Linked DNA regions of Homo sapiens: regions 1, 3 and 4 are each linked to region 2. Evidence: fine-mapped expression QTL. A gene starts in region 2. Each other region holds a variant in brackets. All regions are shown on one strand. Distances are between the middles of the regions.

Region 1 (8,102 bases), 140 kb before region 2:
TAATTCCAGCATGACTCTCCAGTTGTATGTGATAAAAACAGGGAATTTGGACTCAGGTGCAGGGGATGCAGGGAGCCCCACTGTGTGGAGGCTGAGGTGGGGACTGGAGGGCATGTCTACAAGTTGGGGAGCTCCGAGGATGGCTGGCAGCCACTAGGAGCTGGGCAGGGCCTGGAACAGGTTCTCACTCAAAGCCTGTGGAAGGAACCAACCCTGCCAACACCTTGATCTCAGACTTCAGGCCACCAGCACTGAGGGGGAATGAATTTCTGTTGTTTTAGCCACCTCGTCTGCGGGGATTCCTCATGCAGACCTAGGAGATTGATAGAATGCCTGACATTTCTTCTCTAGTAAATGAACGGAGAATTACGGGTGAAGCTGGAGGAGCTATGGATCCATAGCTGTAAAAACGGGGTGACGGGTTCCAGGGAATAGTGTGTGCAACTTATCATTTCATGTTTTCTAATATAAGCAAATAAGCATGTATATTTCTTATTTTCATGGACAAATGTTTCCAATACTTTACATGCTTTTCTTCACCTTGCTTTTTCCCTTAACATATGCTAGAGATATTTCTCACTCATTTTTGTAACTGCATATTTTTATGTTGTGTGAAAATGCCATATCGCTTCCTCTTCAATCTCACACCCAGGACAGAGCCTGGGACAGCCGGGCTGTTTTCTAGCTTGCTTACTTGCAATTCTATTGCAAATTGAGCCCCATACGTCTTCTAGTATTTGTGCTCAGAAGGCTAAATCCCTGGAGGTAGGATTGCTTTTTCTAGAGAAAAATGATATAATATTTCGCCAGATATTGCAAAACTTCCCACTCACACCAGTTTAGCATTTTGCATTCCCACCAGCTTGTAAAAGAACGCCCTGTCTTATAGTCAACAGAAGAGGCTACTTTTTTAAAGAAATGCTTTTATTTTAGTTTAGTTTTAATTGGTGTTTTTCTTGTAATGAATGAAGTTCAGTATTTTTAAAAAAGCATTTCTTTATCTATGAACAGTCTGTTCATATACTTAATGTATTTTTATATGCTTATTGGTCTTTCTGTTCTGTGGTTTTAGAAGTTCTTAATGTAGATGGACTGCCAACCCTTCGTGTGTGATATAACTTGTCAGTCAATATTTTCCATTTATCATTAGCTTATGCTTTTTACCATGTAGATATTTTTCCATATAATGAAACCTACCACATTTCCTCTATTGCCTCTGGATTTTGAGTCATGGGGAATAAAATAATAGATATATGTTTCTGTATAGGGGTTCATCTCCTGCATTTCAATATGATCCATTTGGAAATTATCTTAGGATACACTGTGAGGAATGGATCCAGTTTTATCTTTTCACTAAACACCGTTCCTTATACTCACATGGGAAGGGGCTAGGATTCTCCACGTTCTGAAGAGCTTCTATGCACAGTCTGGTGAGTCCAAGTGTGGCACATGAACATCTCCTGGAGGCTGGCTGGATGTGCAGAACCTCAGAGCCCACCCAGACCTGCTGAACCAGAGTCCAAATGTTAACAAAATACTCAGGAGGTTCCTACATTCGAGAAGATTCAAGTTCGAGAAGGACTAATATTCAAAAGGTAGTTTTTCTTTTGGCTTTCTCCCCAAAATAATAGGCAGATTAAAAAATGAATACTGCCTTCCATTAGCCTCGCCATACTAATACAACACATTTACACCTTTTAAATTAGGGACCTCATGTATTGCATGATGATCGGGTCTTAATGTTTGTATGAAAATCATGGAAGGTGATAAAGATGCCCCTCAGCCTAAGGCTTAGCAAACCCAACAATGACTCCCCTCTCGAATGTGACTTAGACTTGTTTATACCATAATTACTCATTTTTGTTTAAGTTGCCATTTTTGAACTTTATAAACACACTATATTTTATATAGTCTTAAGTGATAACGTTTCACTCAATATTATGTTTCTAACATTTATCCAAGTCATGAATAACTATACTCCATTCTTTTTCACTAATGCATACTACTATACTGTGTAAATGTATTTAAAATATTTATATATTCTCTTTTTATATCCTGAGATGTCCCGATATCTTTCACCGGTATAAATCATTACAAATTATACTTCTAAAAGCAATTCTTTTTATTTATATTTTTCATTTCAAAAGTGTGCTAGAATTTTTCTCAGGTGTGTATTTAGGAATGGAAACGTAGGGTAAGAGAAGGTAAGCAAGCTCAGGTGATCATGCACATTGATTTTTGATCGTGCAAAGGGCCACATGGATTCATACTCCCAGAGTAGTGTGGCAGTGCGGCCCCCAGCCAGCGTCATGCATGGGTGACCTTCATCAGATCAGGGCTTGTGAATTGACATCTATGCAGTCAAATGTACTGACTTTGGTTATCTGATTACTTCACGTTATGCTTATAAAAATTGTTTGATATTTTTAGATTTCAAAATGGTTACTTTTTATGTAATGATTCTATCCTCTTGAATTAGTTACAAATAATTCACCTTTGTGGAACAAAAGACCCAACTTGGAGCATCTTAAATATGTGGAGACTTTTTTTCCCCAAGTAATAGGAAGTCAAGAGATAGACAGTTGGTGGCACTGCTTCAGTCTTCGCTGTGAGGAGACGGATCTTACGGTCACTTTTATGAGCTGGGCTACGTTCTCATGGAGCATTGAGACCCACAGAGTCATGAGAATCAGCGGCCGCCCGAGCCCTCCTCGCCCATTGTGGTTCCTGGAGCCGTCCTCGTAGGATGTGTGTGTGAGGACGTCCTGCCCCACTCTGTTCTTTTAGGTGGTCAGAGAATTTAAGAGAAAAACAGGAAGCTGTTGTTTCTCATGAGATGAAGCCTGTGTGATCCACTAACAATTATATTTCATCTCTATTTTATTTTCTGAAAATTCCTGTTAAACTCAGATAGTAGCTTATCTGACAATTTCAGTTTCCCAGGGGGTGAGTACTGTGTTTTTTTCTCTGTGCCCTCACGTTCGGAGGGATGGGCCATGGCTGGGAGTGGTGCCCGCTTAGGGCCCTTTTGCGGCACCCCTCCCACTCCTGCCTGCAGGGTCACGTCCCCCTGGAGCGGGCACGGTCCTGTGTGCATCTCGTCACCCCGCAGGCTGCAGGATCCTGAGCCCAGGATGCAAGTGAGTCTTATTTCTTCCCCTACATGGTCCAGACAAGAGCCTGGGCTCTGGATCTTTGTATTTAAGTGTGTGGCCAGGGAAACACACAAACCAGGCTGTGATAACCAGACTTCCTCTCTCCAGTGAAAAAAAAAAGCAAAAAATACAACAATTAAAACTAAAATGCATGGCTTGATTATTGAGTCTTCTTTCATCATGGAATTCATTGCTCCTATAGATCATCCAGTGTGCAATAAAGGAACTCACTACACACACAAAAATGAAACAAAATGTTCTCTTGTCCACTAGTTTGATCTGGTTATTATAGCAGCTCTACTTCAAATTTTAAAAAATAGAAATTGGGGGACAGCGATGCTTCCGTGTGCCCTTCGAGCTCACGCTCAGCGCGGCTGTGGCTTCCTGTTTACCAGCGCTTGCCTGGACCATCCATTTGCCGTCTCTGCCACCAGCCCAC[G/A]TCCCGTTCATAAAAGAGATTTCTGTTTACCGCCTGCTATTTAGAGTTCTTCCATCAAAGTTCGATTTGCAGTGTTTTACTCTATTATGCTGTCCTTCTCCTTTCCACCAGCTGTTTTCCCTGACTCAGTGGCGTTCAGATGAGCATGGCTCACCCATGCCCACGTCTTCCTGTCCACCGTTACTGGTGGCTGCTGACCTTGCTCTGCTGTGCCCCTGGCAGGCCCTCCTCAGTGGGGTGGAGGCCCTGCAAACCGGGGCAGGGCTGGAGCCACTGACTAAAGGGCGGCAGGGAGCCGGCAGGTCTGACCCATGCAGTGCTGCTTTCTGCCCAAGAGCACCTGTGTGGCTCAGTTATTTTCCTGTCTTTACCGGCACCTGGCACAACACTTTCTACACCCTTTGCTGAATAGAATTAAAATCCAAATGTAATCTTAGATGATTAGGAGACATGTCTTGCCTAGAGGATGAGTGAATATAGCCCAGTCTATTAGTCTGTTCTCACATTGCTTTAAAAAACAAATGCCGGTGACTGGGTAATTTAAAGAACAGAGTTTTTATTGACTCATAGTTCCACAGGCTGTACAGGAAGCATGGCGGCTTCTGCTTCTGGGGAGGCCTCAGCGAGCTTCCAATCATGGCAGAAGGCGAAGTGGGAGCCGACTTGCCTTTTACGGCTGGAGCAGGAGGAAGAGCAAGAAGGGAGGTGCCACGCACTTTTCAAAACCAGATCTCTTGGGGACTCACTCACTTTACAGCACCAAGGCAGGTGGTGCTAAAGCATTCATGAGAACTCCACCCCCATGGCCCCACCACCTCCCACCAGGCCTCAACAGTAGGGACTACGATTCAACGTGAGATTTGGGTGGGGACACAGATCCAAACCATGTCACCCAGTAACTTCCCTCTGTCCACTAATGCTTCACAGAAATGATTAGCACGGGCCACAGGAGAAAGGCCACATGTGAAAGGAGACATGGCGTGACACTGCATGAACCTTCCTGACATTTCTCTAGACACAGTGGAGATGGAACCAAACCAAAGAGACTAACTCACTGTTCTGATTCCTGCAGTGTCTCTACACCCCTAGTCAGTCAGTGGAAGGACCCGGGCGGGAGGGTTGTCCAAACCCACAGGCTGGGGCTGGGCATGGCTGAGGGGCACGGGCGACCCCGCTGCTTTCCTTTCCACAATGGGTTTGCAGGCTCTGGAAGCAGAGGCACCAAAAAGGTGGCAAAATGCTGAACAAAGCACTGGGACGGAGGGGGCTTGTCCCAGACCTGGCAGGACATGTGGGCAGGCTGGGCCCAAGTGAGGCAGTTTTTCAGGCACTGGACCCAAGCCCAGTACTCACCAGAGAGAGAAGAAAAGGGGCCCGGAGGAGAGTCACCCCAGCCCCTCAGTCTCCTGGTTCACCGAACAAAGAACATGCATTTGCAGGTGAAGCCATCGTTGCTTATTTTTTCTCTTGATTTGAAATGTAGGGATATATGCCTACCTCTGTAATCTCTGATGGAGGCCATAACTTGATTAGAAGTCAATATACAACACAGACTTCCCTCTCTGTAAGGCTGAGCAAGGAAGAAAAATAGCAGAATATGTAATCACATATATTTAACACAGATTCACAAGTTAAATTAGTCATATGTTGTGGCAATGGACACTTAATTCAATAACTAAACAGAAAACAAAACTAAACAATCCTCCAAGACTTAGAAAACGAGCATGAAAAGTTTCTAAAGATGGGAAGTGTGGAAGACGGACAGACCGGGCAGATTTAATCCATAAATCACAAAACCCACAGGTGGAGGGCACAGCCCCCAGGCAGAGGCAATGCCCAAAGACAGCAGAAGACAGCATTCTCTATCACTTTGTCTGTGAGGCATAAACATTTGCCACTTAATCACTGGGTCATCTCCTTGTGGTTTAAATTCACATGTTACTGATTGTTAGTGAGGCTGGAATCTTTTCATGAATGTACTAGCTATTCATTTTTCTCTTCTATAACTTGCCTAATCTTTTGCCCAGTTTTCTATTATGTGTGTTGTATTTTCTTTAAATTGTGACAGTTCATCTATTCTGTATTTTGGGTGGATTAAAGATCTAATATAAAAAGTAAATTTTCAAAATATTTAGGGGGAAAATGATGAGTATCTTCATTAAAAACTAAAATAACATAGTATCTTAAATAATTTATAGAAGCATAAATGTTAAAGTATGCCAATCAATTCAGCTACATACAAATTTATAACTTTTATTTACTAACGAATACCATGAAATGGAAGAACACAGCCTCGTAGAAGACAACTGCGGCTCCCTAAATACCTTCAAAATGAGCACCTGAAGCAAAATGACTGGGAACATGAAAAAGACAATCTCTGGTGGCTGTGCCAGCAGAGCCCCCTGCGTGCCAGCGGAGCCCCCTGCGTGCCTGCGGAACCCCCTGCGTGCCTGCGGAGCCCCCTGCGTGCCAGCGGAGCCCCCTGCGTGCCAGCGGAGCCCCCTGCGTGCCTGCGGAGCCCCCGGCGTGCCAGCGGAACCCCCTGCGTGCCTGCGGAGCCCCCTGCGTGCCAGCGGAGCCCCCGGCGTGCCTGCGGAGCCCCCGGCGTGCCAGCGGAACCCCCTGCGTGCCAGCGGAGCCCCCGGCGTGCCTGCGGAGCCCCCGGCGTGCCTGCGGAGCCCCCTGCGTGCCACCGGAGCCCCCTGCGTGCCTGCGGAACCCCCTGCGTGCCAGCGGAACCCCCGGCGTGCCAGCGGAACCCCCCGGCGTGCCTGCGGAGCCCCCTGCGTGCCTGCGGAACCCCCGGCGTGCCAGCGGAACCCCCTGCGTGCCAGCGGAGCCCCCGGCGTGCCTGCGGAGCCCCCGGCGTGCCTGCGGAGCCCCCTGCGTGCCACCGGAGCCCCCTGCGTGCCTGCGGAACCCCCTGCGTGCCAACGGAACCCCCGGCGTGCCAGCGGAACCCCCGGCGTGCCTGCGGAGCCCCCTGCGTGCCTGCGGAACCCCCGGCGTGCCAGCGGAACCCCCTGCGTGCCAGCGGAACCCCCGGCGTGCCAGGGGAGCCCCCTGCGTGCCTGCGGAGCCCCCGGCGTGCCTGCGGAGCCCCCTGCGTGCCAGCGGAGCCCCAGGCGTGCCAGCGGAGCCCCCGGCGTGCCTGCAGAACCCCCGGCGTGCCAGCGGAACCCCCTGCGTGCCAGCGGAACCCCCGGCGTGCCTGCGGAGCCCCCGGCGTGCCTGCGGAACCCCCTGCGTGCCAGCGGAGCCCCCTGCGTGCCTGCGGAGCCCCCTGCGTGCCTGCGGAACCCCTGCGTGCCAGCGGAGCCCCCTGCGTGCCTGCGGAACCCCCTGCGTGCCAGCGGAGCCCCCTGCGTGCCTGCGGAGCCCCCTGCGTGCCTGCGGAACCCCTGCGTGCCATCGGAACCCCCGGCGTGCCATCGGAGCCCCCTTTGTGCCTGCGGAGCCCTCTGCGTGCCTGCGGAACCCCCTGCGTGCCTGTGGAGCCCCCTGCGTGCCTGCGGACCTGCCAGGGAACTATAGGGTCACCCATCAGGACTCTCATGCATGAGATGGGTTATCTCATTTCACCCATGCACTAAAGTAGGAAATATGCTTTTTCTATTTCTCACAGGAAAGAAAGACTTGCAAGGTTTAATATCACTTGGACAGATGTGGGTAGCGCCGGGGCTCCAACCCTGCTTGTGGGTCTAGAGCCCGTGACACCATCCCGGAGGACGCCCGTAGGGCCCCTGCGATGGCAGTAAGTAGGGCCCCAGAAGAGGCTCCCCAGGCACATCCCTGTCTTGTTTCCCCTGGTCACTTGGTGCTAAGCCGGCACGGCGCCCTGCTGAGTGGGATCCCTACCATGAGAGAGCAGCTGGGAAGGACGACTTGGGTTCAGCTCTGAGGGAAAGCAAAGGCGAGGAGCAGAGGCGAAGCCTGGGCCCCGGAGTGAAGAGACCAACCTCAGCGTCAGCCGCACGCTGGGCCACAGCCATGCCAGGTGTAGTCCTGGGCCCACCTCAGCCATACCCACCTCTTGCCTTGGAAATGGAGGCAGCTCTCCTTTATTTCAGAGCGCTGGGGACATCGTACATCATTCCAACATTTCTGTCACTTTTTTCAGTAGCACCCCATGATCAGACACAGCCTCGTTGTCCTTCAGGCTGGCCACTTCCCAAGCCTTGCAGAGACTGAGAGAATGGCATCCGAAAAACTAGAAAAGCACATTTCATTTTCATGTTCCTTGATAATGTAATATATTACAACAAGTCATGGTGAGAAAATTTACATTCAAGCATGTTCAACTTTGTTGTGTGTTCTTCTACAACAATCAGGGGAAGAGTGAATTTTTAACATTGCCTTTATGGCCTCAGGCTTCTATAATTTGGCTCAGTAAAAATCTGTTACTTTTAATGATTGAGTCTTCCACTCCATCGTAGCTGTGGGTGATGGTGAACTCACCCCGATAACACCATGTTCCGAGGCTTCCAACCTTGCCTTCAAACCTTCAC
Region 2 (8,102 bases):
ACAAGTCACCAAATTCTGATGCCCCAGACATTCTCTAGGATTGGATAATGCTCTCTTTCATGCCATATTGTAAGGGATAAAATACAGGAAAAAAGAGGCCATTATGACAGCAGACACTCTGAAAGGCAGTAATAGCAATAATTGGTCAGTTAAAAGAAATTTAAACTATACTAAAAAGTTAACATACTTTATCTTATTTAATGTTTATAAAACCTCTGAGGTTGTACGTACTCCTGTCATTTCCGACATGAAAAAACTGGGCTCAAAGAAGTTGTCTTGCCCAGGTTCACACAGATGTGAGCAGGAATCAGAACCTGAGCCCATTTCTGTGGCTTTGAAGCCCACGTCCTTTGCAGTCCGCTATGCTGCATTCTTGAAAGAAAGTGGAGTTCAGGTGAGGTGACTCTCCATCTGTTCCTCCCACCCTCTTCCTACAGCCCAGTCTTCCCAGCAGATCCAAGAGGTTCTGGGGCCTCCTCCTTGGAAGTTTGCATATGCAGTTCCCTCTATCCAGGAGGCATCCCCATCACTGTGCTTAGCTTATCCTAGAAACAAACAACAACCCACTTTGGTAGGTGGTGCCTTTATGACACTTTGGATGTCTCTGTGATGAACCTAGATCATTGTGTGTGTCACTTCTGATCAGGATATCTGATTTCCTGCAGAAAACAGATGGAATGCAGATATATTGGTGTTGTTACTCAGCATCTATGACTATATTTTGTTGAAATATTGTCATGGATAATATTTTTCTGATATGTTGATGATTGGTGTGTTCTTTCAAATTTATTCTTACTACTTCCATCAAAAGATGTCAGATTGGTGCCTCCAAATGGCAAGTAAGCATCACAGTGGTTTCAGAATTTATAACTAAAATCCAGTTTGAAGGAACAACGTAAAGTCCATACTTCCTTTAAGCCTTTCCCCATGAAAAGTCCTCTTTATCTTGGCCTGGAACAATAAATTTTTTAAAAAAGTAAATCAGCCATGCTATCTTATCCCAACCCTTTAAATACAACTTTCACCTAATTTCTCTCCTGAACATGCATAGCCGTGTGCATCTGCAGATGCAAAAGCAGTGTTGAAGAATGGGAAGGGGTGGATGACCATGTTTTTGGAATCATCTTCTTCCTCCCTAGAAGGGGAGAAGTGTTACATAGAATGCTGTACTTCATTGATCTAGAATAAGCTGCAGATATCATGCATACATTATCACTTGTAAGAGTCTATATTTATTACATTTATACTAGGAAAATTAATCCTGTTAGAAAGCTTGTCTTCCTAAATGCTTTAAACACTGTCTAGTACGTGCCTAGCACACTAATAGCATTTTGATAGCTTAAAAAAGCAGAATTGGTAAATATTAAACAGTAAGCAATATTTGTTTATAGTACATGATGTTATCCTTTATGAAAGGTGATTTTTTTCTACAATACAAACTTCGTTAGATTGTTAAATGATTGCCATAATGATTGAAAAATATAACAATTCATTTTAAAGCATGTGGTTAACACAGGTATTTTAGAAGTCTTTGAGGGCAGCTAATATTCATCTAAAATTAAATACGTACCCTCTGGATGAAGAAAAAAAATGATTGCAGTCAAAACATCAGAACTTTAACCTGTTTATGAATTGAAAAAATCAACTCACCCATCTCAGGACCTATATATAGTACTGTTAGGGTAGATTAAATACAGGTTTTTTTCCTCTGCTCGGTTTTCTTCCTATGATCCAACACAGTTTTCTCAAAAAGATAACCAAACTAAATCAAATCTAGAAAAAAATTTTTCCAGTAATTCTAGAATATAGTTTGTTGCTAATTGTATCTCTTTTCTTTTTGGCTTCCTGCTTGAAAAGCACGGGTTTGAAGGGGTCCACTTACATATTTTTTTTCAAACGTGGGTCGAAAACACAGCAGCTGGAGGATGCGAAACGCACACAGAGGGAGGGCAACTTTCCGTATTTGCGTGTTCCACAGGCCCCACTGTGAGACGTGAATGTGCCTGGATTTCGGTATCTGCTGGAACCAGTCCCACGCTATACCAAGGGATGACTGCACACCTATTTCTGATGACTGGAGAACTCCAAGGGGTTCGTCTTGACAATACCATTAACTTAAAAATTCAATAAAGATTAACAAATCGGTGGTACACTCTAAGTTTGTTAGTCTGTAAAAATTGTTTCTATAATATAAAATGAGCAGCACCTAGATAATTTTGGCAGAGAACTTTGTAAAAATAAATGAACACATAAATTGTCTGACTCTTAATTGTAAGATCTCATTAATCCAAAGACCAACCAAGCATCAGCTCTGTTGCTGTTGATTATCCACCAAACCTCTACTAACCTGGGCGGAAGTCTTGGCCCACACTTGGATGGTAGAAAGGGCTCATTCAAGGAATCCATTTGTCCCATTAAAAACTGCAAAAGAAAAGACATAATATTAATTACTAGCAAGGCTTCCTCGGTAGGTAGAATTTGTGTGTGTTGGGGGAAATAGATCCTACTAGCATTTTATAGAAGAAATTTAGCTTTTGATTTTATAAAATACTATTCTAATAGGTCTATGTAAATTTAAAATAATACGTGAAATGTGTTTTCTTCTTTTTACCATACAAAGATTTTTTTGAAAAACTGTCTTACACCAAGCTATTTTACAACAGTAAAATCTTCTCATGGTTCTATTTTTCTGGGAACTGCGGTGTCCACCAGCTGCGAGGTGGGCCCGGCAAGCAGGACCGGGAGCAGGGCCGGGGAGGGCCGGTTCCATCGCCAGGCGTCGCTCTTGCCCGTGGAACTCAAGTGTCTTCTTGGACATGGGAAGGGGAAAGAGAGAAACGAAAAATGCCTCCTTTTATGTGCCTAAGGTCTGTTTGACATAAAATTTTACTTTTTCCTGAGTGTATTTTAGCAGAAATGTTCACATTTCAGTCATGTAGCTTGCAAAAAGAAAAAGAAAAGCCTCGCTGTGAAATCAAACCATCTGTTTTTCAAGGGAGCGGAGAGAACGCAGATCCCAAGGGTGTGGGGCGGGGTCCGGAACCGGCACATTTCATATCTTCTCTCTCCACGCTGCCTCCCCGCCCAGCTCTGCCGGACACTTTCTCCTCCTGAGGAGACAGACCCCGTGCAGGAAGAGAGAAAGGACGCGGGGACGGGCGCAGACGGGGCCTCTCCGGGAGCTGGGGGATCGGGGCGCGGAGCCTTCCGCCCGCACCGCCCGCGCTCACGTGCGCCTGGGCCAGCACCTTCCCGCCGCGGTCCTGCGACTGCCCCGATCATGGTGCAGGCCTTTAATTCTCGCCCACTCCGCCTCTCTGATTGCACTCAGAACACCTTTCCCAAACAGATCGCGGACTTGGAAGACGTCCAGCTCTTGCCCAGAAAGCACCAATCGAATGGGAAAGTGCGCAACTGATTGATAATACATTTTACAAGAATAAAATAAAAGAGGCAAATTGCTGAACTTTCACAGATGTGCCGGGCTTCGGCCAAAGAGCCAAACTTTCTTAAAGACGAGTCCGGGAGGCAAGTGCCCTCCTGCGGGCGTTCCCTGCCGGGGCGCGAGGGACCCGCGGGCCGAGGGTCCAGCGCAGAGGAGCGCGCAGATGGCGCGGTCCTTGCCGGGGAGGGACCTTCGCTCGTCCTCTCGCAGGGGGTCTGGGGAGGGGGTGCAGGTCCTGCCCCTCCTCGGGTGGTCAGCTGTGCGCACCTCGGGGGCCGTGGAGAGTCCTCACCCGCCCATCTCCTGCCTCCTGGCCGCCCCGCCTCGGGGACCAGGGCTTGGGGACCCGAACCTGGGGACTGGGCTCGGGCGGGGCAGACCCCTCGAGGTCCGGAGAGCGGATCCCTCCAAAACGGATGGACTCTAATTGACTTATTAAATGTCGAAGCAATCAGGCAGCTCCCTTTTTAATAGCCCAAGATCTACATTTAGACAAAAACAGAACCGAGTTCCTGGTAAAGGCGTTTCTTCTCATCCTGTCACAAGTGACAGGAACGGAGGGAAACAGACTGGGGGAGGGGCGGGGGGAGGAGAACAGGGGGAAGAGGAGGAGACGGGGAGTGGGGGAAGGTGGGGCAGGAGAGGAGGAGACGGGAGATGGGGAAGGTGGGGAGGGAAGGGGCGCGGGAGACGGGGCGCGGGCGAGGGGGAGACGCGGTGGAGATGCGGGTGGGGGGACCGGGCGGGGGCGGGGGCGGAGTTGAGGGGGAGCGGGAGACGGGGGGAGGCGAGAGCGAGGTGAGGCGGGGGGACTGACGAAGATCCGCATGGGGGTACTAACACTTCAGCGGCTTCTAATTAAAGCCCCGCTCGGAGCCCTTGGGGACCCGCCTGACGTCGGCGGGCGCGGGGATAAGAAGCTCCCCGAGGTCTGAGGCGGGACTCGGAGCCGGCGCACCCCAGGTCGGCCGTGGGTCCAGCGCTCGGAGCGGCCGAGTCCCCGCGTCCCGTGCGCTCCGCCCGCCGGGCATGGAGTAGTGGCGCAGCTCGGGGCGCGGGGACAGACGTGCGCACAGACGGCGACGACTCCGGCGGCTCCAGGTAACCGGCCCGGCCACGACGCGCAGGTGGCTCCCGGGTGGCGCCGGGCAGGTGCGGGAGGGCGCCATGGCCGGGAGGTGGAGGGGCTTCCAGCACGTGGCGCGGCCGGGGCCAGCGCGAGGGTCCGCACCCGGCCTCCTCCGTGGGCTTCGGGGACTCGGCGCTCGCCGGCGACCACCGCGCAAAGGCGACGCTGGAAACTTGAGCGCGGCCGCCGGGCCCGGCGCGCGGCGCCGCCTTCTTGGAGAGCGGTAGGCGCGGGAGCGCGGCCCCTCCGAGGTCCGCCCGCGGCCGGGGAGCTGCCTGGCACCCGCGGCTTCCAAAGGGGAAAGAAAGTTGCGCCCGCGCCAGGCGCAGCGCGCTCGGCGGACGCGGCCTTTCGGGCGAAAGTTAGGAGGGGCCGGGCTGGCGGGCGGGCGGGTTCCGGGGGCTCCTTTCCGCACCAGCGGCGGTCGCTCCCCGTGGGCGGGACCTCGGGCGTGATCGTCGAGGAGACCGCGGCTCCCTCACCTGCCGGCTTGTTCCTCGGGGTCCGCGGAGGTGAGGGGCCGGGTCCAGCGCCAGCGGCTCCTCCCGCCTCCCCTCCCCTCCCCCGCCCCGCGCTCCGTCCCCCTCCCCCGCTGACTTTCTCTCCGGCCCCCCGCGCCCCTTCTCTCGCAGCGAGCCCAGCTCTCGGCGCGTGTCGGAGTCTCCCAGCCCCGCGGCCCCGAGCGCACGATGCGCGGACCCGGGCACCCCCTCCTCCTGGGGCTGCTGCTGGTGCTGGGGGCGGCGGGGCGCGGCCGGGGGGGCGCGGAGCCCCGGGAGCCGGCGGACGGACAGGCGCTGCTGCGGCTGGTGGTGGAACTCGTCCAGGAGCTGCGGAAGCACCACTCGGCGGAGCACAAGGGCCTGCAGCTCCTCGGGCGGGACTGCGCCCTGGGCCGCGCGGAGGCGGCGGGGCTGGGGCCTTCGCCGGAGCAGCGAGTGGGTGAGTGGGGCCGAGCGCGCCCGAGGGCCGGGGCTGCTGGGAAATAGAATTGTCTTTGAGAAACACGTTTCAAAAAGAGACATCAATTTTGACCACTGAACAGCAGGATTCCTTTTTTTTTTTTTTTTTTTTTTAAGAAAAAGAAAATAGCAGCAATAGGTCCGCGCATGAGGCCTGGCGGAGAAGCGCCTGGTCTCCTTCTGGCGCGCGTGAGCTGCGGCGCGGGTCGGTGGTTTCCACACTAAACTGTCAACCGTCACTTTGGAAATGGAAGCATTTCCAGCAAAGCTTTCCCAACTGAAAAGGAAGCATCCAGGCTCCTTCATGGCCCTGCCCAGAGTGGTGGCCCACGGGGAATTTCCCAGGAAAGCATGAAAGCGTCTAATGCTTTTGTGACACAATCAGGTCAAACATGATAAGGTCAGTTTTATCCCGGCTGCGTCAAGTTAGGAGTGAATGAAGACTCACTAGGGGGTCAGCTGTGGATGCGAATGCTCCTCTTCAGAGGGCGTGACTTCACACACAGTCGGGGCTCAGCCAGGAGCCCTGAACGGGGGAGTGAAGATGGAGAGGGCTGTAAATACGCAAAAACAAAGCTGAACTCAAGAAGAACGCCCTTGCAGGGTTCTCCCCACCCACTGTGTGCGGAGAACCCTGGTGGAAGAAGTTTGCTTGGCAGAGTCTTTCCCTGGGATTCTTACCCTACAAACCAGGTTCATGCATATTCCCACTAATTTACACCTCACTGAAACGTGGTCTTTTAATCCTTACTCTAAATATGTATCTAGATAAAGTAATGTTCTGTAACCCATTTTTTTGTTTGAAGGGTCAGGTTTTCTCTAAAAACTTTGAAATGTTGTGGGATTTGATTCCCAAGGTCCTTAAAACTAAAGTGCCTAAAAGTGACTTATTCACTGGAAGTTAAATGTTTAAAAGAAAAAAAAAACAGTTTTCTTACCTCTGTAACTTCGTGGTCTCTGTCTGCATCCCACGGGGTAGACAGCCGACATAATCCTGGAGCTTCAGGAGCAGTTACTGTTATTTCAAGGAAAATAAATGTCCCTGATATTGAGTCTTCTTCACTGTCGTGTGTTGCAATCCAGGGCCCCAGTCTTTTTTATTTTGTGCAAAGCAACTTGGCTAATATGGAGCTCCAATTTTCTTCAACATTCACTTAAGATCACATTTTTAAAAAATGCGTCCTTCAGGTAATATAATACTTTCTTTTCCCTGAAACAGAAATTGTTCCTCGAGATCTGAGGATGAAGGACAAGTTTCTAAAACACCTTACAGGTAAGTTTTCTCCTCGTTCCTCACGTCTCCCAGAGCTCCTTTTCACCTGTGAGTCTTCATGATCTGTTTCTTCTTCCGTGTTCCAGGCCCTCTTTATTTTAGTCCAAAGTGCAGCAAACACTTCCATAGACTTTATCACAACACCAGAGACTGCACCATTCCTGCATGTAAGTAACAGCATTGGATTTTTATAAAATGCAAGAGCAGTGCAGGCAGCGGTTCCCCTCTTTCCATTTCCTCATATAGGCCCCTGCCTTCTTAGCTCAAATTTGCCTATTCCTTCCTCACTATGGAGTTAGGGGCCAAGATCGCCAGACCATTGCAGAAGATAACTAACTTCTGCATCAGCTAACGCCAAACTGGAAATTATTTACAGTCATTGGAATAATAGGCTCTTGGGATGGGCTGAACTCCGATTCTCCTCCTGTTAATTCTCCTCCAATGCCCATGTTTGTGTGTACTCTACTATGGCAGTCAGATGTTAAGAATGAGTTGCTAAACTGACTCCAAGAATAAGATTGACCTGGATCATCTCCACTGCTCTTACCAGAGACTTTTTCTTCCCATTGGTAATTATAACCTCATCACCCAGGAATTTCATTGTGATTTCAAAACTGTTTCTCTGGCTGGCTCCATCACTCCTTCAGAAATGCAGAGCTGCCCTTATCAACATAGCTCTCAGCAGTAGCTTTCTCTCCTGTTTCTTTTCAGTCTTCCTAACCTGCTTTTGGCTATTTATTCATAACAAAACATTTTATTTCTCCAAAAGTAGCTCCTTGTTCTCTTCACTGAAGCCTTATTAGCTACAGTGATAGGGCCCTAACCCATTTTTTTTAATTCGGACTCCAACTTTGATTTTATTTAAGGCTCACAGGAGAAAAGTCATGCAGAAACACTAGGCATCCTGCTAACTGCTGTCATCAGGGCTCTCCAGCTGGACCAGGCAGCGTTCCGGACTTGCTGTCCTGCCTTCCCTCTCCAAAAACAAACAAACGAAAAGCCAATGTACACGAAGTATAAGTGCTTTTCTTTGTTTAGGCAGCAAAATTACTTCAAATAATAATAACCATCATTTATAGAGCTGCTTCTGTGTGCCGGGTGCATGCCAATGAACCTTGGCCCACTGAAGTAGCGTCACCAGCGCGTTTTGGACAAGGCTAAGGCACATGCACTTTTAGCATTCACATCACCGCACAAAGATGCATGGAACGCAGCCTCGGCCCCTCTGACCATACCTTTAGCAACATCATCCTCACGCCAAGGCCAGCAGCACACACTTCCTGAAGAGTTTTT
Region 3 (8,102 bases), 30 kb before region 2:
AAACAAACAAAAAGGCCCTCAAGTGTCTGGCCTTGAAGCATCTAGAGACTTCAAAGAACTGACTGCTGAGTGGAGTGTTCCTGGGAGGCCGGTGACATGAGTGGTGACAGGCCAGGTGTGGGTGGCGAGTTTACACTGCCCGGTGTAGCTTAGAAAAGGGAAGGGAACATGAGCGTGTCAGCAGGGTCCGCAGGGTCCTGCAGCAGGAAGACAGTCTTCCCATAGCTGATCACCCCTTTAAAGTAGGTTTGCCACTCCATCTTGAGATTCTCATCCTTCTCACCAGTTTCCCAAAGTAGCAACACGTTTTCCCTATCTGTTTGCTTCATGTGATCTCAAAATCAAAGTATCACATGCGCAACGCCCTTCCTTCTGCATGCTCTCGACCAAGAGCTCCCTGGAGCAGGGCAGTCCTGGTGAGCCTGCCCTGTGTCTTACAGCGGTATTTATAATGGCCAATCCTCAGGATGGGCCCACTTTCCCACGCACCCTCCTTGTCACATGGCTCCTCTCGCCTCTCTTGCCACCCGGCTGCTTCCTGGAGGTGCAGCAAGTGAAGGTGGGCGTGATGACTGAGACAGGTTTTATACTAATCTTTTTAGATCCAAAGTAAATGTGTTTTAATGTCTAAACATTAATATTACTTTAGATGCTTAATATACTTTTAAATTTATTTTATGGCACGGCTACTAGCCTGAAAGAGAAACACCACACTACCTGCTGCATTGGAAAAGAGGATAAATTACTACCAATTGTTCCTTTAGGTCAGACACCAGGTTAAACATTTTTCATTTATGAGCTAACTTCATGTACACAATTACCCTACATGATAGGGACTCTTGTTCCTGTTTTGCAGACAAGGAAGCTGAAATGTAAAACTTGCCTAGGGTCACATAGTCTGAATACAACTCTGGGATTCTGACTCCAAAGCCACATCCCTCCTGCTCCTCCCCACCTGCCCCACTCACATCCTTCTGTCCCCCTGAGCGCATCCTCTGCCATCCATGGCTTCCTTCTATCTGGGGACAAAAAAGCCTCTCTTTATGCCTGGCCAGACATCGCAGATGAGTATGGTAAAAAATGACCTTATACATCACAGTTGACCTTTTTGCATGATTTGCCATAGGTGGAGTGGGTGGAACCTGTACACACATTTCCATCTTTCACCTGTGGGATTCAAGAACTGTAGAGAACAGTGATTTACCCATGCTTTTTGTCAGTAGCAAAGCTAGGATCGATCTGCTTCTCAGTCTCCGTCTCTGTGATCACCCACAAGCCAAGTCCTACTCCAGCCACACACAGGACACAGGCATCCACACAGGGGGCAGAGCACACTTCCCTGAAAGCAAATGGTGTAAGTATTGGTATGTATCGCCTGAATGAGACTTTTATGCAACTTATTTTACCTTATCTTTTCAAATCCAAAGTAAGTGTGTTTTAATGTCTACACATTAATATTATTTTAGATGCTTAATATACTTTTAAATTTCTTTTGTGGCATGGCTATCAGATTGTCTATAAATATAGGTTAAAATGTTCTACCAAAAGTATTATTACGTAGGCCATGGAACCTCATGAATTGTCTCAACTCTTGCCTAAAACGTCAGCGCTGGGTGATTTCCCAGTTGCAGGGACTCTGTGACTCCGATAGAGCTCTGGGCTTTTGGGTCCATGTCACTGGGGTTCATTATCCAGCACCCACGGGTGAGCGGGACCCTGGGCTTTCAGGGTCATTTCACTGAGATTCATTATCCAGCATCCACGAGTGAGCACGACCCTGGGCTTTCAATGCTGTGTAACTGGGGTTCATTATCCACACCCGCAGATAATATATCTGTGTGTCTCGGGCTGTGCTGGTCACCAGAAAAATGAGAAGTGAGATGGGATCCTTGTCTGTTGAGGGCTCGGGGCTGAGTGGAAATCTATCCCATTTAGCCTGGTCCATGGCTCCAGCTGCAGACATGGTCCCCGTCACTGCAGATGGAGCGGAAGCTGACATCTGTGCTGCAGGACAGAGCATCTCCACATGGGCTACCTCGCACTGGCTGTCAGGAAGACCTGAATGTCTAGAGGTTTTCTCTCCCCAGTCTTTTTCTCTCTTGCTGTGGCCTTTGCCTTTCTCAGCAATGTGCAGAGCTTCTGAATTGACAGGCTTAAGAGATGAATATGGGTCTAAGCCAGCAACAGTTTTGATCGCCCATTGTGACTAACCTCACATCACCTGATGACAATTTCCACAGCAGCCTCTCCAGAGCCACTTCCGAGAAGGATGTGGTCAAGATCAGCATCCATTAGTTGGTACCTACAACCAGGCAGGTACAATTCAGATGTCACATTGCACCCAGGACCAGCAGGCTAGGTTTGACTGGGGCGAAAGCATGAGCCCCATTGACTGGGGTGAAAGCATGAAACCTCCCTGTGAAAAGCGCTCAGAGATGAAGAGAGGATGTGGGGAGCAGCCCATGGCAGCTGGCATCACTCTGTGAAGTCAGGAGGCACCTGCTCATCCAGGAATACAGACGCAGTGCCCCAGGCCCACCAGGCAAACCAAGTTGGAGCAGAGATGTAGAAGCCTAGGGAAAAAATGTTTTCTGCTTTTGTTTCTTTATTTTACGTGATGATAAATGGGGGAAGAGAAAGAGTGGCCCAAGTTTATAGAAAAGAGTTGGGATTCCTATTACTAAAGGCTTGCTAATTCTTTTTTCTTTCTTTTATAAAAAAAAAATAACAATCAAACTTTTAAAATATATCCATGGATGGAATGAAAGGTACAAAGCGGTGCGGTAGACAGTTTCTCAGCACACCTCTACGTGGCCAGCCCCTCCCTGGAGTCACCACGGCACTGCCTGGCGCTTTTCCTCCAGACCAGGCCTTGCTCGCTGAATCCTAAACCCAGGAAGAGCATCCCAGGCTCTAGGTCCTGCCGTAACCAGCATGGATCAGGAGTTCCCACCGGAAATTTACCTCTTAAAAACTTAGCAGTGAGCTGTGACCACACCACTGCACTCTAGCCTAGGCGAGAGAGTGAGACCCTGTCTCAAAAAAAAAAAAAAAAAAAAAAACTACACTAAAAGTTTTCCTTCCCTGAGCTCTCCTCCTCCACTGTGTAGCTGAGAACTTTGAACATGAAGGAGGCGGTGACCCCACCTGCCTTTAATTAAAAGCTCAGTCCCACCGCACAGCACCCTTAGACAACAACTTCTTCAGGATGTTTGAAGTGTCAAGTCCAATCTAAAATGGAACCCGCATTCTAATCTCCGTTTCCTAATGAGCACATGCTGCGTTGACTGCACGTGAGGTCCAAGGTGAAGGGGGTGTGGGCCCCGGATGTGCCGGCTCAAATCAAGCAACCCTGTGGCAGGTGTGGGGAGTGGCTGTACCCCTCCAGCCTCCCTGCAAGCATAGCACCGGCTGTTTACATCTTGGTGCTGTTCTGTCACTTACTAAGCCACCAGGGGAGATGAAACATTCTAGCTTTGGTGGTGCACAAGTGAGCGCCAGCTGTTTACATCTTGGTGCTTTCTGCCTGCACACACGCCCACACACACACGTGCCCGCACACACGCCTGCACACACCCGCGCACACACCCCCACACACCCGCACACACGTGCCTGCACACACGCCTGCACACACCCACGCACACACCCACACACACCCACACACACATCCGCACACACGCCCACACACACACACCCGCATACACGTGCCCAGGCACACACGTGCCCACACACACGTGCCCCCACACGTTTCCGCACACACCCACACACACGTGTCCACACACACACGGCCGCACACATGCCTGTGCACACACGACACACACACGCCCACACACGCCCACACACATACGCCCACACACATGCCCACACACACGCCCACACACGTGCCCACGCACACAGCCGCACACACGCCTGTGCGCACACACAGACACACTCACACGCCCACTCACATGCCCGCACACACATGCCCACACTCACGTGCCCACACACGCCCACACACACACGCCCACACACACGCCCGCACACACAGGGCCACACACGACACGCACACACACCCATGCACACACGCCTGCACACACGCCTGCACGCACGCCTGCACACGTGCCCGCACACACACCCGCACACATGCACACCCGTGCACACACACCCGCACACACACAACCACACACACACACACACACATGCCCAGCAGATGTCTTCTACTAGCAGGGGAACGTGGGCAGCGAGGCCTGTCTCCTGTGTTCCTAAAATGTGGACACACGAGGGCACATCTTTGCCGGCCTCCCTCGCCACTCAGCCACGTGGGCTCAGCAGCGAAGCTCACCGCCTTCACTCACATTCACACTCGCGTTTATTGAGAGCAAGTGAATAAACGTGTTCTGATATTGCACTGTAACTGGTTAGTTCTTTTTCAAAAAGAGGGATAATTCAGTATTTTATTATTTCTGCTTATTGAAACAGGCTCTTTTTTGGCTGACACCAGATTGTACAAGCATCTGCTTGTTGCTCCATTCCGAAAGCAATGTGAAAATCTGGTTTCTTAGTTTTTCCTCATATTATCACTATTACAACCATGGCTTGGATTTCAGATTCATGCATCCCTAAGCTTGGAGGTCCATGTCTGGTGAAGCTGATTAGCTGCAGGGCAACAGGAACTGGATCCTCGGGGATAACAAGAAAGAACCAGTCTCTTTAGAAACACAGAAAAACTTTTTGCCAAAATGACAGACAAGTTCTCCTGAAACTGAGAAAGTGTGTGTGTCACCCTGACACCACATCCCGTC[T/C]CTGACTCATCAAGTGTTTCTCCTGCAATCCCCCTGTTGAAAGCTGGTGCAAGGGGCTGTGAGAAGCTGGGAGCCTCCAGGCGAAGCCCAGCTCCTGCCAGACCCTGATGCAGCCGTAACCATCACAGCACCATCGCGGCAGCCCTGACCTGGCCAATGTCCTTCCACCCTCTTACCTGAACCCCAGTGTCCGGGCCGGGACAGGAGACAGACTCTCAGCTTCCGGTCCTTAGAAGCTCCCTTCTGCTTCCATATCCAGGTCATTGTCACACAGTACAAAGCCTCTGCCACCAGCAGGGCCGAGAGCTGCGGGCTCTGATGTTCGTCCCATCATATAAATGTGTTCATCAAACTAAAGCCTCAGACTTTCCTCTTTTGTGTGGGCTGACAGCTCTGACTGTACAAGAGAAAACGGTTTTGCCAAAAAGTGAAAAATACCATTTACTTGGGAGAATGGTGAGTCATTCTAACTGAATTTGCACGGAGCCTGCAGGGGTCCTACAGGACAGAGGTCAAGGAGGTCATGCTGCCTGCCGGGGTCATGTGCTAATTAGTGGAACAGCTGGGACCAAAACCTGCCTTGAATGAGGCGAGCTGTGCAGAGCCGCTGGGTCAAGACCCGGCTCCACCGCGCTCAGGAAACGAGTCTGCATCTCTCTCGCCGCTCAAGCGCCGCCTCCTACAACACTCCTCCCTGACTCAGCTCGACAAAACTCGTCCATTTTCCACTATTCAGGGAGTTAAATTAAATTTCTTATCACTTGTTTCAGCCACACTGGCCCATGCCGGGCAGCTCAGGACCATCCAGGCCTCCCTCAGGCCACCTACATTCAAGTTTCCGAGGATGCTCTCAGACCAAGGTGGGCGGTGACCCTCATGCACCCCCTATTTCCGCCCCATAACCATCTATTCAGCAATGAGACAAAAATCCCATCTGAACTCTATTCCATAATATGCAAAGCATATGCCCTAAGTTACAAGCGCTATTCAGTTTTCATACAGGAAACACTGTCTGGGTCCCCATAACAAATAGACACACTCTGGGCCTACCCTGTCTTTTGGTGAGTGCTTGCTGGTTGTCCTAATAAGAGAATCTTCCTCTCGGAATATTAACTGCTATTTTTATTAATGAGGCTCTTCTGAACAGTCTTTCTGCAATAACCATTGTAACACTGTTTAAATAGCTTTTTGTGTTAAGACAGGGCCTTCAATATCACCTAAGTAAACCATTTTGATTTAAAGATAATTAAAAACCTTTCTGATGGAAAATTTTCCCCAATGTCCTGTTTAAAATTTCCACTCTTGGTCAAATGAAGTAAATGAATTGATTTAACCATTAAAAGTATTTATTGAGTATCTGCCATGTTTCAAACATTCAGCTAAACAGAGCAGTCTATCAGAAACACAGTAGGTGCATTCCAGTCTCACCACACAGCTTTGCTGACCCCACAGCCCCCCAGGTGCTTGCTGGCATCCTAGCCTGTGGGCACTGACCTGCTGCCATGGCCAAAAGCCGCGTATCCTCAAGAGAACACGAGAGAGCATTGCGAGGGATGCATTCTTGGGAGAAGGTGAAGAACACCGCGAGGGACGTGCTAGAAGCTGCTGGCCTGTTTTCAACCCACAGCCCCAAGAGCCACTGGCTCGAGACTCCTGGGCTGAGGGGCCACGGGGCCACCCCTCTGCCTTCCCGCACCCTGCGCACTGCACGGCTGTCCACTTTGCAGCCTTGGTTGCACTTTCTCCAGCTACTTGCTGTGGAAACTATAATAAAGTTTAGTCTTGAAGGCACTGGGTAACCTCTGTTTTATGGTTTTTAAAAAATCATTCCTCTTCTTTCTCCTCTCCTCAATTCAAAGACACCTGTTTCATGAAGACCAAGTGAGAAAATTAGTTAAGTGTTAAATAAATGCATGTAGAAACTGTATTAGTCTGTTTTCATGCTGCTGATAAAGACATACCCAAGACTGGACAATTTACAAAAGAAAGAGGTTTAATTGGACTCACAGTTCCACGTGGCTGGGGAGGCCTCCAAACATGGCAGAAGGCCAGGAGGAGCAAATCACGTCATACGTGGATGGCAGCAGGCAAAGAGAGAGCTGTGCATGGAAACTCCCGTTTTTAAAGCCATCAGATCTCGTGAGACCCATTCACTACCATGAGAACAGCATGGGAGAGACCCACCCCTGTGATTCAATCATCTCCCACCAGGTCCTTCCACACACGTGAGGATTATGGGAGCTACAAGATGAGATTTGAGTGGGGACACAGAGCCAAACCATATCCAAGAACAAATACACTAAAAGCCAAAACCAAAGCAACCTCTAAGCCTGACAAGTCAGCTGTCCAGGGGCCACTGCCCCCCCACACCCAGAGAAGCTTCCTGGTGGCAGTGAGATGCCTCCAGGACAGGGGACCAGAAGACAGGAGGGTCTGGCCACGGTGGTGAGGGACCCCCAGCAGGTGTCTGGGCTGCAGACAGACGCCTCAATGTTTTCAACTTGGGGAACAGAGCCACACCGTCAAGAGAGACAGCCTTTCACTCACTGCAGCCAAGCCTCTCCGTACCTTCCCAGTCAGCAGCAGTTGTTTCAAGAGATTTCGAAGAAGAAACAGGTTCGACCTCGATGCCAGCTCTACACAGCAGTGACAGAATAGCCCCAAGGTTTAGTCACCTAAAGCCAGTGAGAGAGGAAGTACAGGCGAGCCCCCAAAGCTCCTGTCCAAATGGACAGAAACCTATTTGTCTTGGTTGCCTCCTGATCCCGGCCTCAAACGGTGCTTTGTAATCTCTGTGTTTTCTTTGGATTCACTGAAGTGGGGGATTGTTACGCATTTGTGAGCTGCACTAAATGCTACCTCTTTCAGTAACAACTCTCCCAGGATTAAAGACGATAAAAAAGCCACTGGCTGGCAAGCCCCCAAGCTGAACACAGACCTAGATGTGTATCACCCTCCCCACAAGTTATTTTTTCCACCGAATTAAATTCCAGATGTTTACAAGCACAGATACCTGTGTTTCTCTGGTCAGAAACGTGATGTGGCCCATTGTGTGGAAGCCCAGAGAGGCGCTCGGAGGCCCCCATATCGTGACGCTAAACGCGGAAATCCAGTGAAATCATCTTTGCGAAAAACTGGCTCACTTTGCTTTTTAAGATGCGGTCGTGAACGGGAGCTAGGGCACCTCCGTTCCCCGCGAACCGAATCCATCTCAGGTCCTTCTAGTCGGCATGGCTGCGTGCCCAAACACACCCAGGGTTAAACTGGGGTTCCGCCGCCTGTCCCGTAATCCCACACGGGGGACTTTACGGAGGGCCCACG
Region 4 (8,102 bases), 94 kb after region 2:
CACACAGGTAGTAACGTTTCTTTCTTAAAGACTAGAGTTATATTTCTTCTATTGTGGTACAACCTCATTGTTTTTACGGCCATATTATCATTTTATTCAGGAATGTTGAAATGCTCTGAAATATCACTTAGTCATTAAAATGTTGATTACTACAACTAAATGACAACATAGAAAAGTGCTTATGATATATCATTTAGAGAAAATTTAGGATACACGACCTTACAAGCACTATGACAGGAGCTGAGTAAAAGTAGACTACGTCAAGAGGCCGGAAAGGAAGACAGAAGGGAAAAGGCCCCGCGCGTCTCCGTGTCAACAGGCCGGAAAGGCAGACAGAAGGGAAAAGGCCCCGCGCGTCTCCACGTCAACAGGCCGGAAAGGCAGACAGAAGGGAAAAGGCCCCGCGCGTCTCCACGTCAACAGGCCGGAAAGGCAGACAGAAGGGAAAAGGCCCCGCGCGTCTCCACGTCAACAGGCCGGAAAGGCAGACAGAAGGGAAAAGGCCCCGCGCGTCTCCACGTCAACAGGCCGGAAAGGCAGACAGAAGGGAAAAGGCCCCGCGCGTCTCCACGTCAACAGGCCGGAAAGGCAGACAGAAGGGAAAAGGCCCCGCGCGTCTCCACGTCAACAGGCCGGAAAGGCAGACAGAAGGGAAAACGCCCCGCGCGTCTCCACGTCAACAGGCCGGAAAGGCAGACAGAAGGGAAAACGCCCCGCGCGTCTCCACGTCAACAGGCCGGAAAGGCAGACAGAAGGGAAAAGGCCCCGCGCGTCTCCACGTCAACAGGCCGGAAAGGCAGACAGAAGGGAAAAGGCCCCGCGCGTCTCCACGTCAACAGGCCGGAAAGGCAGACAGAAGGGAAAAGGCCCCGCGCGTCTCCACGTCAACAGGCCGGAAAGGCAGACAGAAGGGAAAAGGCCCCGCGCGTCTCCACGTCAACAGGCCGGAAAGGCAGACAGAAGGGAAAAGGCCCCGCGCGTCTCCACGTCAACAGGCCGGAAAGGCAGACAGAAGGGAAAACGCCCCGCGCGTCTCCACGTCAACAGGCCGGAAAGGCAGACAGAAGGGAAAAGGCCCCGCGCGTCTCCACGTCAACAGGCCGGAAAGGCAGACAGAAGGGAAAAGGCCCCGCGCGTCTCCACGTCAACAGGCCGGAAAGGCAGACAGAAGGGAAAAGGCCCCGCGCGTTTCCACGTCAACAGGCCGGAAAGGCAGACAGAAGGGAAAAGGCTCCGCGCGTTTCCATGTCAACAGGCCGGAAAGGAAGACAGAAGGGAAAACGCTCCGCGTGTTTCCATGTCAAGAGGCCGGAAAGGCAGACAGAAGGGAAAAGGCCCCGCGCGTTTCTGTGTCCAGAGGCCGGAAAGGCAGACAGAAGGGAAAAGGCCCTGCGCGTTTCTGTGTTCTGTTACGGGGCTGGGGTGTGCAGTCAGGGTTTTCCTTTCCAACACTTTATATCATGGCTTATTTTCTTAATATTAGTAAAAACACATTAAAAATGAGTTCAAGTAGAAATTAATAGAGTAAGAATACATAACCTGGATGTTCATTTGCTCTCACTTTATCCTTGCAAAACCATCTGGAATTTCTCCCCTGGTGCTTCCAAGGAGATCATAATTATAACGTAGATCCTGGAAAAGACACCTCCCAACGAGGTGACATTTGTGACCCCTTGGATCAAGGTCAGCCCTTACAGTATGCTATTTAAGTACTGAAACACAGTTTCCTGCAAAACCTTCCAAGTCAATATACACATCTGTTGCTTCAAATCATTTAAACAGCCCTGTAAATGTAGCCAAATGTCCTGTTTTAGTGGGCTCTGGCTTGCCCCCAGCAGGGGTGGCTGCAGTAGTTAGTTGAGGTCCACTTGGTCCAGGTTTTTAATTTGTAGCAGTATTGGAAGGGTTATTTAATATAGGAGTTTTAAAGCTATAAAATATATAGCCAAGAAAGACTGAGTTTTGATGTATGCATACAATCCCAAACTCCTTAATACTAAAAATCAAGAGACTAAAACCCTTAAGCTTCTGTTCCCAGGAGATTATAATGGTTTCACAAAAGCTCCCATGTTTCTGTTTAGACCCTGAGAAGGGCTCTTTCCACCAGAGAAGACAGAGGTCCTTGGCCCCACCTCTGAGGTGGGCACAGCCTCACCCAGCCCAGATGGCTCTCACGGCCAGGGCCAAGACACGTCCTGGCTGAAGGCCACCGTACACAGCAGCAGGGCCCCTGAAATATGAACTCAACAAAATTGTAGCATAGAGAACTCCGTAACAGTTAAACTCTGGACACCAAATGAAATCCACCAGGGACAAAAATCTGTTTCAGTAACTACTGCCAACATCGGACTTTCCCCTGCCCTGTGATGGGGAAAAGAGGGCAAGTTAAGAGCCACCCTCCCACAACTTTGAGCTCCAGCAGCCACTGAAAAGAACCACCTTCCCCACATGACACAGACAAGACTCACCAGTGACAGGGCCAGAATCAGACCCTCTGCATTCCCATTTTTGTCCCACAGATGTGTAGCTGAACTGCTTTGACTCCACTGATCTATCTTAAAAAAATACTTGTTAGCCGAACTTCGACTCAGCTTCTCCTCTCGGCCAAGCCCACCCATGAATGCTGCGATGGGGACCCCACCCTCCCCTCCATCTCTTCCCAGTGGGCTGACCCATTTCCTGCCCACTGTCCACTGCGCCACGGGCCCCTCCATGCCTCACCCAGGTGTTCTAGGCTTGGTTACTCCCTCCTCCTAAAACAAAAGTGCTTTTCTGCCTGAGATGCTTGAAGTTCTTTGGGGTCAGAGCATTCACCCTGTGTCATGAAGTCCCCTCCCTCTCTCAAAATGAGAACTTCAGGTAAACTCTCTGCTTAAGCGAGTCTGGATTTGTGTTTCACTGAAACACAGAGAAGACAGAGAGGACACTACACTGGCTGAGAACTACCATACGTCCTTAATAACAATGAACAATGAACAAGAGAGAGGGCCCCACGTTCTGGCAACATGGCGAACCTGTGAACTAGGGAAGCCCTCCCAGCACAGAAAGTGCCAGGAAAATAAAAACAAACAGAACATTTTAAAATTTATGACTGTGTAAGTAGAAAAATAAGGTGAGTCTTAGAGGTATGAATCTGTAAGAACAGGCAGCCTTGATTGGCTGAGGCTGTGATTTTCCCAGAAGGAAAATGTGGCCGAGGCATGGGGGTTCATAGGTTTCACCTGAGGGCGGTGGAAATGGCCTTTGTAAGTTTGAGTCCTGCAAAGGGGACAATTACAGCATGAGAAAAGGGGACAGACCCTCAGGATAATCACTCTGTTTGAATTCTGGTGGAGGGGAAATGAGACCAAAAATATCACTCCAGAGTCTTCCTCAACTCAGTGCTTTGATTTGGGGTTCAATTCATGCTGTCTCTGTGGCCCAGCAAGCCCTAATTCTAGAATGGAAAGATTGGTACCAGGTAGAAGCAAAAACACTCCTCTCTGGGGCAAAACACTTTAAAGAAGGCCTGGGCCACGTTCCAGGCCTTTAGGAGACTCTCCTAGGAAAGTGGGATCTGATTTGCTCCAGTCGTGGAGCCTGGGAAGGTGGTTCTGGGGGAAGGTCGTGCCTTTCTGACCAGCCTCTGAGAGCTGAGTCAAGAAGTTAGAGGAGAGCTGGTGCCTGGTTGGGCCTGGCCAGTAACTCCTGCAGGAACTGCAGTGAGGGCCGACCCTGAGCCCAGAAAGGTTCCCGATGATTAACAGGAGGCTCTGAAAAGTGCATCATTTATTCTTAGCATTGTCAAATTGCTTGACCCAAGTCAGAGGTGATTTTTTGGTTTATTATTTGCAAAGCATCGTGCCTTTACCCTGCAGGGGCCATTTCCCCTCACAAGGAATGCAGCAAGGAGCTTGGAAGCAGACGGCTGTGGGGAAGGACCAGCATGGGTGGGGGTGCTTTGAGAGGAGAGACAGAGGGCCTTTGCCCTTTCACCGGAGAGACATGGTGCCACTAAGAGTTGCGAAGGGTAAAGAATGTGTGAAGACACAGATACCTTGGGGGACAGTTTTTCCTCTAACTCAGGAATGAGGATGGTTCAACTCACACTATTTCAAGCCTTCCAAGTAAACAGTAGTTAGTAAAAACACAATACCTGTCTCTAATATTACTTGCCTAAATATATGGACATATGAAAATGTATCTCAAAAAAATAATCTAAAGAGAAGGAGAAAACTATAATAAAAGGTGTTTATTGCAGTGATAAAAATATCAAACAACAGTAGTAAATGTAAGTCTTGCAGTCAAGCTTTAGGGTATTGTTCAATAATCAAAATAAAATGTTGATTATGTAGCAACACATTAACATGCTTATAATAGAAAGTGAAATAAATTACATACCCGAATATATTCCTAAACTATGATCAGAATGAAGGAAAACATGTCACACATATGATCACAAACTGAACGCGTGTGTGGGAAAATACAGGTACATGGTCTTAGTGTAGAAAGAATGTTAACATTGATTTTTTTAAAAAAGAATTCTGAGGTTTGGGTTCGGTTTTCATTATTGTTTCTGCACTAGATGATTTGTAAAGTTCTAAACATGTAGCCTCTAGACTGATTAAAGGAGCGTGTGACGTGCAGTGCAATATCACAGAGACAGGCAATAACAAACAATAACAATACAGGCTCCTGGGACATTTACAGTCACACATTTGCCCATGTCGACAACAGAAGGTTCTTCCTTTTCAAGCTCCCTAACCCGGGAAGACACTGCTCCTGCTGTAGTGTGACGGGGACACTTTTGGCAGATGTGGTCTCCAGCGTGCTTGGTTTGGTGGTCCAGGAACCGCCGGCTCCATCTTTGCCCAGCTCTCCCTTCCCTGTGTACCCAGAGCCAAACGAAACACCCACAGGGGCAATGGTTAAGAATTAATTTCTATGTGTTTTGTTATCCGT[T/C]AAACACAGGTTGTGAGCTAGCAAGAAACAAGATACTTTTGGAGGCTTAGTGACTTTTTTTTTTTTTATAAAAAGCGACCTTCTCCTCAGGCTTATGGTATGTTCTTAGTTATGGGAAAATGTCTATACAGGCCACAGAAGGGCCAAGACCATGTAAAACTGGAAAGTTACAAAAATTTTCTAAAATAACCCTCTCTTTGCCTCCCTCAAAGCTAGAAAACGTTGGGAGCCAGATGTTTTCAGAAGGGAAATAGTGTCCCCGGGAGGAGCTGTAATTTTGAGCAGCAGAACTTTGCCTCTGTGGCCTGTTTATAGTTGCCTTGGGCTCCGGGTGAGACGCAGCTGGACGGGGCTTCTGGAAGCCTCCAGGCATTAGTATGCACGGTTAAGGATTTAAATTCTTCACAGGCCTCTGCTGGCCCACAAAGGACTGGCAAAAATGCAGGGATGACTAACGGGTTTCAGGGCCGAAAACAGACTGGAGGGTGCCCCACACAGCGCTGCCGGATGAGGTGCAAGTTAGTTTCTGTGTCTGGCTGACAAGTCGGACATGGCCTGCGGCTGCCTCCACAAGCAAGAAAACCTTTACAGCTAATTTTCGTGGACCGAGAACTGGAAAACCCCAAGCTTCACCACGGAATGAACAGACGTCGGCTGCAACATACTCTGTGGTAAAAGTGTTAACATCACGGCATCCTCCCTGGTTTTGCACCATTAGGTTAAAATGGAGAACTTGCTAAGGTGTTCAAAGGGCTAAAGACCCTTGGTGTGGTAACATGTAAAAAGCGCAGTTTTCAGATTTGGGAAGACTTGACTGCCCCATTGACAGCAGCCAGGTGGCCTCCAGCAAATCTCGTTCTATAATAGATCACCGGGTTTCTTCACAGGGAAGGAAGGTGCATTAAAAAATTTAAAGGGAGGTGTTAGATATGTGTTCTTCTTTCTGTGTTAGTCCCTGGCCAAGAAAACATGCCGAATTTTCTTTATTTTTCTTCCATCATAGTTACAACAACACAAATTCTCTCCAGCTTAGTTCTCTAATATCTTCACCAATCACAGATCTGGCCACTACGCTCCATCCTCAAGCCCACCCAACTTTCCCCTGGGTAGCCTGGCAGAGTACACAGCTGTCTGCCCTCATCGAGTGACTTTGCCTCTATCAGTTACGGCAGCGTAGCAGTGGCTGATCAGGGTATGGGATGGGGATTGGGGAGGAGGCCGATAGAAATGGGTGCAGTAGGCCAGGCGCAGTGGCTCATAACTGTAATCCCAGCACTTTGGGAGGCCAAGAGGGGTGGATCACGAGGTCAGGAGTTTGAGACCAGCCTGACCAACATGGTAAAACCCTGTCTCTACTAAAAACACAAAAATTAGCCAGGTGTGGTGGTGTGTGCCTGTAGTCCCAGCTACTTGGGAGGCTGAGGCAGGAGAATTGCTTGAACCCAGGAGACTCTGTCTTAAAAAAAAAAAAAAAAAGAAAGAAAGAAAGAAAAAGAAACAAGTGCAGTGGAACAGAAAGACGAGTGGCTGTCACCGGGCAATGCAGGTAGCAACTTGAAACTGATGAGGGCAGTCCTGGGACGGAAACCAGAGGACCCTCAGTTTCGCTATTATTTTTTTAACCTGATGTCATAAAGCTTCTACTATTCTGGGTAATTATGTCCCAAAGTTGGCAAGCATACATGTGCTTTTAAATTTTTTATTTTATTTTTAATGGTAGTCACAATCATATAACATGAACTTTATCATTTTAAACTTTTCAAGTGAACAGGTTGGCACTGTCAAGTATATTTACACTGTTGTGCAACAGGTACCTAGACTTTTTCATTTTGCAGAAGTGAAACTTTATGCCCACTAAGAACTAATTCCTTTTCTTTTCCCAACCCCCCAGCCCTTCACCTCTCTATTTTCTGTTTCTACAACTTTGACTACTTGAGATACCTCATATTAGTGGAATCATATAGCACCTTCTGTTATTTTGATAATGGCCATACTGAGAGGTGACAACATGCTAGCAGCCCTTGCTGGCTCTCAGTGCCTCCTCGGCCTGGGCCTCCACTCTGGCCGCGATTGAGGAGCCCTTCAGCCCGCTGCTGCACTGTGGAAGCCCCTCTCTGGGCTGGCAGAGGCCAGAGCCGGCTCCCTCTGCTTGCCTTGAGGTGTGGAGGGAGAGGCGCAGGCGGGAACCAGGGCTGTGCACAGTGCTGGTGGGAGGTGGGCACAGGCTCGGCGGGCCCCACACTGGGAGTGGCCAGCCAGCACCGCCAGCCCGGGCAGTGAGGGGCTTAGCATCTGGGCCTGCAGCTGCAGAGGGTGCACTGGGTCCCCCAGCACTGCCGGCCCTCCCGCACCACGCTCAAATTCTTGCGGGTCTCAGCCACCTCCCTGCGGGGCAGGGCTCTAGAACTGTGGTCTGCCATGCCTGACACCCCCCGCCCCACCGTGGGCTCCCGCGCTGCCGAAGCCTCCCCAACGGGCACCGCCCCCTGCTCCGTGGCGCCTGCTCTCATCAACCGCCCAAAGGCTGAGGAGTGCTGGGCGCATGGCTGGGAACTGGCGGGCAGCTCTGCCAGCGGCCCAGGCACGGGAACCACCAGGCGAAACCAGCTGGGTTCCTGAGTCCGGTGGGGACTTGGAGAACTTTTATGTCTAGGTAGAGGATTGTAAATGCACCAATCAGCACTCTGTGTCTAGCTCGAGTTTCTGGATGCACCAATTAGCACTCTGTATCTAGCTAATCTGGTGAGGACTTGGAGAACTTTTATGTCTAGCTAGAGGATCGTAAATGCACCAATTAGCACTCTGAGTCTAGCTCAAGGTTTGTAAACGCACCAATCAGCACCCTGTCAAGACGGACCAATTAGCTCTCTGTAAAATGGACCAATCAGCTTTCTGTAAAATGGACCAATCAGCAGGATGTGGGTGGGGCCAGATAAGGGAATAAAAGCAGGCTGCCCCAGCTAGTAGAGGTAACCTGCTGCAGTCCTTTCCTGGAAGTTTTGTTCTTTGCAATAAATCTTGCTGCTGCTCACTTTTTAGGTGTGCTTTACCTTTACGGGCTGTAACACTCACTGTGAAGGTCTGCAGCTTCAAACCACAAACCCACCCCCGCTGGGAGGAATGAACAACTTCAGACGGGCAGAGCAAACAACTCCAGAGGG

Evidence for each region. PIP is the estimated chance that this variant, and not a neighbour inherited with it, causes the effect.
Region 1: its variant is fine-mapped to the expression of ALKAL2 in whole blood (TOPMed, PIP 0.95).
Region 3: its variant is fine-mapped to the expression of ALKAL2 in whole blood (INTERVAL, PIP above 0.99).
Region 4: its variant is fine-mapped to the expression of ALKAL2 in lung (TOPMed, PIP above 0.99).

What each region holds. Positions count from the first base shown.
Region 1 is chr2:425,479-433,580 of GRCh38, reverse strand. It overlaps LOC124907599 (a long non-coding RNA gene), which reads right to left and starts at 5,164. Exons shown (of 2, transcript XR_007086058.1): 1 at 4,650-5,164; 2 at 4,131-4,270. The variant G/A (reference allele first, on the strand shown) is at 3,595.
Region 2 is chr2:284,997-293,098 of GRCh38, reverse strand. It overlaps ALKAL2 (ALK and LTK ligand 2), which reads left to right and starts at 5,008. Exons shown (of 6, transcript NM_001002919.3): 1 at 5,008-5,086; 2 at 5,207-5,516; 3 at 6,756-6,809; 4 at 6,896-6,976. The coding sequence starts at 5,264. LOC101927262 (a long non-coding RNA gene) reads right to left here and starts at 7,170. Exons shown (of 3, transcript XR_007085917.1): 1 at 6,475-7,170; 2 at 2,348-2,421; 3 at 1-951. It overlaps LOC105373346 (a long non-coding RNA gene), which reads left to right. Exons shown (of 6, transcript NR_189079.1): 6 at 1,979-2,158. RefSeq lists a silencer at 5,444-5,493 and an enhancer at 7,234-8,102.
Region 3 is chr2:314,919-323,020 of GRCh38, reverse strand. It overlaps LINC01865 (long intergenic non-protein coding RNA 1865), which reads right to left and starts at 6,737. Exons shown (of 4, transcript NR_146953.1): 1 at 6,276-6,737; 2 at 4,958-5,178; 3 at 1,205-1,339. RefSeq lists an enhancer at 7,777-8,102. The variant T/C (reference allele first, on the strand shown) is at 4,782.
Region 4 is chr2:190,732-198,833 of GRCh38, reverse strand. No RefSeq gene overlaps it. Among named protein-coding and RNA genes, the nearest start is that of SH3YL1, 69 kb to the left of the region's middle. RefSeq lists an enhancer at 33-1,232. The variant T/C (reference allele first, on the strand shown) is at 4,942.